Regions from separate parts of the Homo sapiens genome. Here region 2 is linked to region 1. Evidence: fine-mapped expression QTL. Tissue or cell type: ileum. Region 1 holds a variant in brackets; the other region holds the start of a gene. All regions are shown on one strand. Distances are from middle to middle.

Region 1 (5,705 bases):
GGCCTCCGCGGGAGGAGGAGATTAGCAGGATGAGTCTTTACCTCCATCACCCATCCTCAGGGTGCTGCTGACTTGTTTCCGCTGGAGGCGGGATGACTCAGCGCAGACCCTTGATGGGGAAATCTGTCTCAGAGGCTGAAAGGAAAGCAACAGAGGGCCACCACTGGCCTTGTTCTTTAATTTAATTTTCATATCAGAAAGACTTCATTGAGTTTGGGGAAATGGAGCTTAATTCTCCCTGTTCCCCAGTGTTGGCAACTCCGAAAAGAATTTCCCAAAGGAATGACCCTGTCCACAGGAGTCCAAGAGAGATGGGCAGTGGGGTTCCAAATTCAGAGTGCGGGGATAGCCCCCCACCTGGAGGAGACCTTTATTTAGTCATACTCCACCACTGTGCTTTTGCCTACTAAATACTATAACCACCGGTGATCATTATGTGATAATTAGCACAGGCCTTTTTTATAACTCCCAGAGCACTACCCCAAAATAAGTGATTGTGTCAGGTGGCAAGGCTACTCCTAGAGACAATTCCTGACTCACTCATTCATTCACTAAATATTTAGTGAACTACTGTGGGCCAGGCCCTATGCTAGGCAGCCATGAGCAGGAAGGTTGTTGTCCCTGGTATTACAGTGCCGACATGTTGCTGGATGGCTAGGCACTGAGCAAGTTTACCCACGGGATATGTGTATCCAAAGTGGAAATGCAGTGTGTATAAGAGGGGCACCCAACTCAATGTGGCTGGGAGAGGGATAACAGGAAGCCTCCCCTATAATAGTAACTTTGAAGATGAGATCTGTAGGAGAGGCAGGAGCTAGCAAATGGAATCCAACTTAGGGTAAACCTATGCTATTTGTATGAGTTCCCCAAAACTTAAAGTTAAACCCAAAGTTGCCTCTTCATATAAACCCTCCAAAGTAACTAATAGGCTATGCCAGCTACAGTGCAGCCAACTCTACTTCCGTACAACGTGATGCTACTTTGGAAAAGTGTGAAATCCTACTTAAGTGGAAGGTGTAATTATTGCAGAGTATTTCAGGGAGGAAGATGGCACCAGGGAAATAGGCATGAAAATCAGGTTCTTCTATTATTTCCACAACCTGGTCTAATTCTCCATGCCCTTGGGATGGCCTGGGTCTGTGATAGGAAATATGTTTTTCTGTCTCTATTTGAGCAACAACATCCTTCTTATCAGCTGCTCCAATGAGGAAGACACTGATGTCCTTTTGCAGGAAACTAACAGGAAAAGAAAGAAAGCTTACCACTAAATACACATCCTGAGGGTGAAATGAAATGACTGCAGTGTAGGAAAGGGCTGAATAAATAAATACACCATTCCTATTGTATAGTCAGACTTCCTGGGGGCGAGTCCTCATCTCTTTACCCTGTCTTTCCCTTCTAAAATCCGCTAACCTGCCAAGGGACCGAACAAAGTTTTCTCTGGCTATTAACAGGTATGGAAACATACAAGTCTCCTCTGTCCCAGACACAGAGGAAACACAGAATAGAGAATAGGAAGGAGAGAAAACCAGAGCCACAGGAAGAGGAACTTGATATTGGTGTACATCTCCCCTTCATGTTTACAGAACTTTCCCAGCAACTTCTGCTTTGAGCCTTTCTGTGTACAAATCTGGTAATGTTTGGGAACATTTCGGGAGAGGAAAGGGCCAGGGCTAGTGCAGCTCAGAAAATCATCCGAACTCTTTAAATCACAGCTGCACAGGTGACTTGATTTAGAGGGAGAGGTGTAAACTGTCATTATCTGTGAATACTGAGCTCTAATCCTGTAGAGCTGCAGTGGAGACTGCTAGAGAAGATGATTCCTGATCTGAAAACAATTCCAGCCTGGAGGATCCTAAGGCATTTCCTTGTAAGGGTAGTTTTCTTCTGTGCGGAAAAGAAATGAAAGAACATGTGCAAATATGGGTGGGAGAAGAAGAAACAGAGACAGAGAGAGAGAGAGACAGATAAGTTGCAAAAACTTGGATCTTTGTATTTCTTTCTTTTCTTTTTCTTTTCTTTTCTTTTCTTTTTTCTTTTTTTTTTTTTTTTTTGAGACAGAGTTTCTTCTTTCTTGTTGCCCAGGCTGGAGTGCAATGGTGCTATCTCGGCTCACCGCAACCTCCGCCTCTCGGGTTTAAGTGATTCTCCTGCCTCAGCCTCCCAAGTAGCTGGGATTACAGGCATGAGCCACCGCACCCGGCCTGGATCTTTGTATTTCTACGGTGTTTTTAGTTTAAGGATCATTTACACTTTAGGAGGTTTTTGTTTTTTCTGTCTTTCTTATGTAATAATTATGGGTGAGCCCTGAGAAATGACTCAAAGCAAAAATAATGGGGTTTTCTTGATTATAGTTCCTCATTTTTCCTGGCCACAGGCCAACCCTCAATATCCTCCACCTTTATAAGGAAGACAGCTTCAACCCAGCCCTAAAGGGTGACTCCAGCCTCTTATGATCTTTCTTTCATGTTGCAAACTGGACTCTCTTCTTCCAACTTTCTAATTGCAAAATTGCTCTTTATTTTTATGGGTTCTTATTACTTCCAACCCAGGTGTGAAAATGTCTTCTTGGACACCCTTATCCCATCTGTAGGGCCTGTGTAGGTCCCTCTTTCTCTCATTCTTAGTTGAGGATTGACTGAGTAGACTGCACAATGATGACCATATTTTAAAAGGGACAAAGGTCACATAGCGAAGT[C/T]TCTGTTCATTCTCCCAGGCACAATCCCTTCTGTCTGGATTCTGGTTGGGGCCAGGCTCAGACTTTTGTGCATATAGGAGGTGCTGCCATAATTAGCCCATTTTGCTGGTTTTGTGCATACCCTTCTTGGTATAGGGCAGGCAGGAAATTAGACTGTGTTATGGATTTGGTGGTCATATTTTATGAACCCCAAATCTAGAATTGTGCTCTGGTGAGTATAGGGTGCTAATGGAAAAACTGAACAAAACATATGGAAATAAGGCCACCCTGGAAAAGTAATGAGAGTTCATAGTATTTCCTTCCAGTAGCTTGGAGAGAATATCAAATATCACATGTTTATTAATAATGTTGGTTTTTTTTTTGAGATGGAGTCTCGCTCTGTTGCCCAGACTGGAGTGCAGTGGCGTGATCTCTGCTCACTGCAAGCTCCGCCTCCTGAGTTCATGCCATTCTCCTGCTTCAGCCTTCTGAGTAGCTGGGACAACAGGTGTCCGCCACCATGCCCAATTAATTTTTTTGTATTTGTAGAGATGGGGTTTCACCGTGTTAGCTAGGATGGTCTCGATCTCCTGACCTTGTGATCCGCCCGCCTTGGCCTCCCAAAGTGCTGGGATTACAGGCGTGAGCTACCGTGCCCGGCTATTAATAATGTTAACAATAACTAATGATTATTGAGCATTTACTACATGTCAGGTCCTGAATTATGTATATTATTTCATTTACTCCTCATAAAAGGGTTCCTTCTAGGAGCTAGGGGAGAAAACCAGCCATTATATAGTCAATAATAATATTAATGGTAATAATAGTTATTATATATAACAGTTATATATTACATAACATATGCTGGCCCGAATTGAACATATTCTCTAATTTGATTTTTGAATATTTAAAAATATACACATATATTTGTTTTTTTTTTTTAAGAGATGGAGGAGTCTCACCATGTTGCCCAAGCTGGCCTCAAACCCCTGGCCTCAAGTGAGCCTCCCACCTCAGCCTCCCAAGTAGCTGCCACCATGCAGTCTCTAATTTAAATTTTAAACAAACCCTAGATGTTATTATTATCTTAGAGTAGGCTGCTTCTAAAATAGCTCCCAATGATCCTCTTGCTGGTCTTTACATCCTTGTGTAATCTCCTTGAGTGTGGGCTGGACCTAATGACTTACTTCTAACTCACAGGATGTGGCAACAGTGATGGGATGTCACATCTGTGATTGGATTACGAAAGACTGTGCCTTCTGTTTTGCTATTACTGTCTCTGGTGAGTCCTCTCTCTTGCTCTTGCTTGCTTGCACTGATGAAGTAAGCTGCCACGTTGTGAGATGCTCAACGAAGAGGCCCATGAGGCAGGGCACCGAGGGAGGCTTCTGGCCAACAGCTCCTGGGGAACCAAGGCCTTAGGAAGTGAGTCCTGCCAACAATAACGAGGTGAGTGAGGCAGGAAGCAGATCTGTCCCAACTGAGCTTGAGATGACTGTGGTCTTATAAGAGACCCAATGCCAGAGAGTTGACCCACAGAAACTGAGACGATAAACGTTCTTTTAAGCTACTGAGTTTTGGGGTAATTTGTTATGCAAGACAAGATAGCTAATATGTATCTCATTTTATAGATGAAGAAAATGAAGCTTTAGGGTGATGAATCAATGTTCCCCAAATTACACAGTTGGTAAATGGCAGAGCCAAAGCTTTTGGAACATACTAAGTTCGAGGTTCTAGGGTCTGAGTTTAAGTCTGCTTTCTCATGAGGTTCCAAGTGATTGGGACACTGCAGTTCTGGAAGAATTCTACTCTCTGAAATCCTTGGAGGATAGCCATGTTTCCAGGAAACTCTTTGTGTGCATAAAAACAGAGATGGACAAAAGTTTAAATGGTGCTAAGTGCTTTGAGTCGGTCCACTCCCTGCTGCAGAAGAATGGCTGATCCACCCATAGATCTGGTGATAGTAACCAGGAGCTCCAGTCAATAGCACAATGGCAGAACTCAGAGCTACAGCCCATCCATTTTTACAAGCGCTCAAGCCATATTATGTAAAGCAGGCGGAAGGGGGCATACACTTTTCTTGAGGATGAAAATGAATGCATTTAGTAATGAAAATGCATAGTGTGGTATTTAAAAATTACATGAGCTCTGGAATCAAATAACAAATGGTTCTGCCTGAGAGACCAGAACACCTTCTTTCACTGATTTTTTTTTCCTTCCCATCCCTGAAACAGAGCCTTGAACTTTGAAACCACAGTACCTTGTTCCAGCGTGGAAAGCAGCGTGGCACTTCCCGGTGGTGAAAGCACCCCAGCTTGAAAGGGTGAAAACACCTTCTCCCAGATAGTCTCCCTTTGTTTAGCCAGTGCTTTTGCCTTAAGGAAATCAAATGAAGGTATGCTCCTTGGTTGGCTGCTGAATCTGTCCTTCCTTGTCAGCTTTGCCCAGAGCAGCAGGCTTTGAGCTCTGGGAGGATTTCCAGGTGGCAGCAGAACAACGGTCCCATAGGCTGGAGCCTGGCACGCTTTCCCTTTTAACCAGTGGCAGAGGCTGCACTTTGCTGGTGTAATTATGCAACCTAGTGTAAAGTCCACATGGGTGGGGATAGGGGGTAGGCAAGGCAGGACTGTAAGCTGGCTCAGCACTCTGATTGGGTTTTTTGACTGTTTTTCTAGCTTTTCTTACCCTTTTCTCTCCTGCCCCCTCATCTCCTCCTCTTCCCTCCTTTTCCCTCCCCTTCTCTCTAATCCCTTCATCTTTGTCAGCCTCCACCCTCAGGGATCCCTAACTCAGGAAGCTACCTCTTATCAAATATTTTGGCTTGCCTCCAACTGCTAGTGGCAGGCAGTTCTGGCCCTTGTCTGCTATCTGAGCGATTTTCTTCTCCACCGGTTGTTTATTTCTCTAATCTAGTTGGAATTGGAATCGTGTGTAGAATCCAGAGGAAGAAAATCCAAAAGCAAAAAATGGATCCTTTCCCTAGTGAGATTGCCCCTGTGGGCTAAAATAGAAATGGAAAGAGACTTGG
Region 2 (5,352 bases), 94 kb before region 1:
GCAATCTTCCTACCTCGGCCTCCCAAAGTGCTGGGATCATAGGCATGAGCCACCTCACACAGCCATTTCATTCATTTTTTTTGAGACAGAGTTTCACTCTTGTTGCCCGGCTGGGGTGGAGTGGTGCAATCTTGCTTGGCTCACTGCAACCTCCTGGGTTCAAGTGATTTCCTGCCTCAGCCTCCCCAGTAGCTGGGACTACAGGTGTGTGCCACCATGCCCAGCTAATTTTTGTATTTTTAGTAGAGACGGGGTTTACTGTGTTGGCCAAGCTGGTCTCGAACTCCTGACCTTGAGTAATCTGTCCGCCTCAGGCTCCCAAAGTGCTGGGATTATAGGCGTGAGCCACTGCACCTGGCCCATTTCATTCCTTTTTCTTTTTTTTTCTTTCTTTTTTTTTGAGATAAACTCTCGCTCTGTCGCCCGGGCTGGACCACAATGGCGAGATCTTGGCTCACTGCAACCTCTGCCTCCTGGGTTCAAGAGATTCTCCTGCCTCGGTCTCCTGAGTAGCTGGGATTACAGGCGCCTGCCACTACGCCTGGCTAATTTTTGTATTTTTAGTAGAGATGGAGTTTCACCATGTTGACCAGGCTGGTCTTGAACTTTTGACCTCAGGTGATCCACCCTCCTCGGCCTCCCAAAGTGCTGGGATTACAGGCCTGAGCCACCACGCCCAGCCCATTTCATTCCTTTTTAAGGCTGAATAACATTCTGTTGTATGTATCTTCCACATTTTGTTTATCCATTCATTCACTGATGGACATTTGGGTTCTTTCCACCGTTTGGCTATTGTGAGTATGCTGCTATGAACATGGGTATACAAATATCTGTTAAAGTCCCTGCTTTCAATTCTTTTGGATATGTACCCAGAAGTAGAATTGCTGGATCACATAGTAATTCTATATTTAATTTTTTGAGGAACCTTCAACAGGGTTTTGATTTATTAGAAACAGGGTCTCCCTCTGTCACTGAGGCTGGGGTGCAGTAGTGCCATCATAGCTCACTGCAGCCTCAAACTCCTGGGCTCAAATGATCCTCCTGCCTTAGCAGGGTTATAATGTTTAATTTTTTTAGTATTTAATTTTCTTTTTTTTTTTTTTTGAGATGGAGTCTTGCTCTGTCGCCCAGGCTGGAGTGCAGTGGCCCAATCTCGGCTCACTGCAAGCTCCGCCTCCCGGGTTCATGCCATTCTCCTGCCTCAGCCTCCAAGTAGCTGGGACTACAGGCGCCTGCCACCACGCCTGGCTAATTTTTTTGTATTTTTAGTAGAGATGGGGTTTCACCGTGTTACCCAGGATGGTTTAAATCTCCTGACCTCGTGATCCGCCCAACTTGCCTCCCAAAGTGCTGGGATTATGGGCGTGAGCCACAGCGCCTGGCTCAGTCTTTACTTTTCATAACAGAAAACGTACCCTCTGCTTTTTATGGGGGTCTAACCATCTGAGTGCAGCTTGAGCTCAAGTGCTAAAGTCCATATTCAGGTTGGTCAGCAGCAGCAGTCTTGCTTGGAACCAAGAGATGGACCACCTGAATAGCATGACCTGGGTCAACGAGACAGAGCCTTAGGCCCAGAAATCTTTCCTGCTGTCAGGATAAATTAGTTTGTTTCACAAAGGGACTCTTGAAGATCAGAATTTCTGTATCTGTAAGACTTCTATGACTTAAAGAATTTCTGTACGTGTGAAATTATACTATTAGAAATACAAGATTGAAGAGTCTCCTTGTAAAAGCTAGTGTTAATGGCTAATAATCTAGCCAGGATTTAGAGATCAGGGAAAATGGGATTGAACTGTGTGGGCAAAGGAGATTAAGTAGCAGTGGAGGAGCTGAAAGGGGAATGGAAAAGTCGACGGACAGCTTCTACTTTACCATCTGTTTTATCAGCCTGGTAATCTGACGCCTGCCAGAACTATGTGGTCATGTGTTCCCTGCTTTGCCTCTTTCTCAGGATTTATAAACCCTTGTGGTGGGAGAATATGGAGCTGCATATATCTAGAGGGTTTTTTTATTTTTATCTTTTGAGACTGCACTTCACTCTTGCTGCCCAGGCTGGAGTGCAATGGCCTGATCTTGGCTCACTGCAACCTCTGCTTCCTGGGTCCAAGCGATTCTCCTGCCTCAGCCTCCCGAGTAGCTGGGATTACAGGCATGCGCCACCAGGCCCAGGTGATTTTCTTTTTAAATTTTCTATTTTTAGTAGAGATGGGGTTTCACCATGTTGGTCAGGCTGGTCTCTAACTCCTGACCTCAGGTGATCCGCCACCTCAGCCTCCCAAAGCGCTGAAATTGCAGGCGTGAGCCATCGCGCCTGGCTGAGGTTTATTTTTCAAAGAATGACCAAGAGGCTAGGTGTGGTGGCTCACAGTTGCAAATCCCAGCACTTTGGGAGGCCAAGGCGGACACATCACTTGAGGTCAGGAGTTTGAGAACAGCCTGTCCAACATGGTGAAACCCCATCTCTACTAAAAGTACAATTAGTGGGGCATGGTGGTGTGGCCTGTAATGGGAGGCTGAGACAGGAGAATTGCTTGAACCTGGGAGGCACAGGTTGCAGTGAGCCGAGATCGCACCACTGCACTCCAGCCTAGGCAACTGAGTGAGACTGTCTCAAAAAAGAAAAAAGACCAAAAACTCCATGAAACTACCATTCAATAAATAATCAATAAATAAGATGCAATTTCTCAAAGCTCAGTTTACAAAGAAGGAAATTTAATAAATGGTTGAAGATATACCCCCGACTGAACCCACAAGTTCTCTGAGTAGACTCATGGAATTCTAAAGAGTTGGTTGCTTGGAGACTGATAGAAACAGCTTTGGAACCTAAGAAACCAAGGAAGGCTTAAGATGCAGAACCTTGCTTCTCTCTGAGGACTGCCTTTTAGGAGGCCATTTGGAAAGTAATTTTGAAACACTGCTCCTTTGCCAGTATCTGAAAGGTGCTGGATGGTGTCAGCTGGAAGATGAGGGGCAACCTGAGGTAGCTGAAAAAACTTTGGATTAGGTGTCAAAAGGGTCAGTACTACTTTAGATACCAAGCAGTATGGTGATCTTAATGATTTCTCTTCTCTCTGGGCCCCAGTTTTGGGATTTATAAAATCAGGACATTAGGCCTGGTGCAGTGGCTCATGCCTGTATTCCCAGCATTTTGGGAGGCCAAGGTGGGAGGACTGTTTGAGTCCAGGAGTTCAAGACCAGCCTGAGCAACATAGTGAGACTCTATCTCTACAAAAAAAAAAAAAAAAAAAAAAATTTAACCGAGAGTGGTGTGCTATGTGCCTATGCTCCCAGCTATGTGGGAGGATTGCTTGAGCCCAGGAGGTCAAGGCTGCAGTGAGTCATGATCACGCCACTGTACTCCAGGAGAGTGAGACCCTGTCTCAAAAAAAAAAAAACAAATCAAGGCATTAGACCAGGTCATCTTTATAGCAGAGTTTCCAGAGTAATCTCTGGAGATAGCTGTATAGCTGTGTGAGTGCATGGTAAAAAATTAGAAAGTAGAGGGGAAAAAATGAGGGGAACTTTTTGAGGGCAAAAAGGGAGAAAGGGGGACTTGAAACAAGCCAGGTTAAGCAGCTGTTCCCTAATCCCACTCTCCCCACTAACCAGGCTTCCTTCATACACCCCACTGACACCCTTTGGGCTGTGCTTTCTTTAAATGTATTGTGTATTAAACCTGAGAGCTTGTGAAAATGCAGATTTCTAGGCCTCACTTGCAGGCTACTGAATCAGCATTCTGGGAGTAGGACACAAGAGTCTGATGTAAAAGGTTCTTTACCCATATCTATTCCAGGCATAGTCCCAGCATTTCTGGAGGCCAAGGCAGGAAGATCACTTGATTCCAGGAGTTTGAAACCAGCCTGGACAACATAGTAAGACCCTGTCTCTACAAAAAAAAGTTTTAAAACATTAGCCAGGCATGGTGGTGCACACCTGTGGTCCCAGCTACTGGGGACGCTGAGGCAGGAGGATTGCTTGAGCCTGGGAGGCAAGGCTGCAGTGAGCCATGACTGTGCCACCGCACTCCAGCTTGGGTGACAGAGTGAGGCCCTGTCTCAAACATAAATAAATAAACAAAAAACTGTATCTAACAAACACCACCCCAGAAGCTGACTGCACACTCTTGGACTCCACCTCAGAACTTCAGAATCCAAATCTGTTGGTAGAGATGAGAGTATTATTTTTTTAAAGCTTTCAGAAGATACTGATACTAAGGCTTATTGCTTTTTAGTCTTTTCTTTCAAGGCAGTTTCCTCTATTTTAATAACAAGGGAGAATGCAAGATATTACTCCTTTTAGCACATGTTACTCAACCTACTTTGACCACTTGTACAGGATAAAGGTATCAGACCAGAGGGTGAGGGTAAGCGACTGATAAGCAAACAGAAAAGTGGAACTAAATTTGGAATCTCTGAGATACTACCCAGTTTGAGTTGAGTTCTGTATTCATAAAATATTAGAGGCAGGAGAGGAATTTAGTCCAACTCCTACGTTTTCCAGCTGGGGATCTAGGAAGTTCATCAGGTTTTAACTAGAGGCATGTGGCCTAACCCTTCCAACCCCATTCCTCCCCTTCTAGCCCAAGTTCCTAGAAATGCAGATAATGCTGGTGGGTTGCTCATTCCAGGGCCTGGTCTGCAGTTATGCCAGGATTGACTTAGTCAATTTTTTATGCTGTCTATGTACAAAAGGACCCCGGACCTGCCACTCTGCTTTTGGTTCTAGAGGGCTATTTGTTGGGAGTGGGGTGCTGCCTCATAATGCTGGTCACGTAATGTGTAAGTTTCGATAATAAGGAGCCTCCAAACTCCATTAATAAGTCCTTTCTTTCTTCTCTAAGCACCCTCTCTTTTAATTGCTGAGTACCCCATAGCCCTAAATTCTTCCCGAAGCGCCCAGTGCATCTAACTGTAGGACCCAGAGACTTGCCTTCTAAGGACAACAGTCCATCCTCTAAACTAATAATAACAATTCCTCACACATATATTTTAGTTTGCAAAGAACTTTCATACGTTTCTAATTTTGAGGTTCATATCAATCAACACTAAATTAGAACAGGTATCAGACTCAATTTTCAGATTGGGAAACTACAGATTTCAAATTATTTGCCCAAGGTAACATGACTGGGAAGTGCACAATTTGGCCTTACACCTGTCCCGTGACTCCAAGACAGACAAAGACAAGCCAGAACAAGCCTCTTTTGATCAGACCTTGTGTAACATTTTGTTCTGTCCCCATTCCTTTTCAAAACAGACCTATCATGTGTTCCCTTCCTTCTTAATAAGCCATCATATCGGATGATAATAACTATTCCTTAAGTTTTTTTTGTTTTTTTTTTTTGAGAAGAAGTTT

What was found. PIP is the estimated chance that this variant, and not a neighbour inherited with it, causes the effect.
Region 2: HEATR4 starts here. The variant in region 1 is fine-mapped to the expression of HEATR4 in ileum (GTEx, PIP 0.93).

Annotation. Positions count from the first base shown.
Region 1 is chr14:73,461,896-73,467,600 of GRCh38, reverse strand. It overlaps LOC101928143 (a long non-coding RNA gene), which reads left to right and starts at 3,959. Exons shown (of 3, transcript NR_135251.1): 1 at 3,959-4,126; 2 at 4,912-5,072. RefSeq lists enhancers at 2,431-2,660, 3,921-4,010. The variant C/T (reference allele first, on the strand shown) is at 2,699.
Region 2 is chr14:73,556,414-73,561,765 of GRCh38, reverse strand. It overlaps HEATR4 (HEAT repeat containing 4), which reads left to right and starts at 2,819. Exons shown (of 18, transcript NM_001220484.1): 1 at 2,819-3,015. RefSeq lists an enhancer at 1,818-1,987.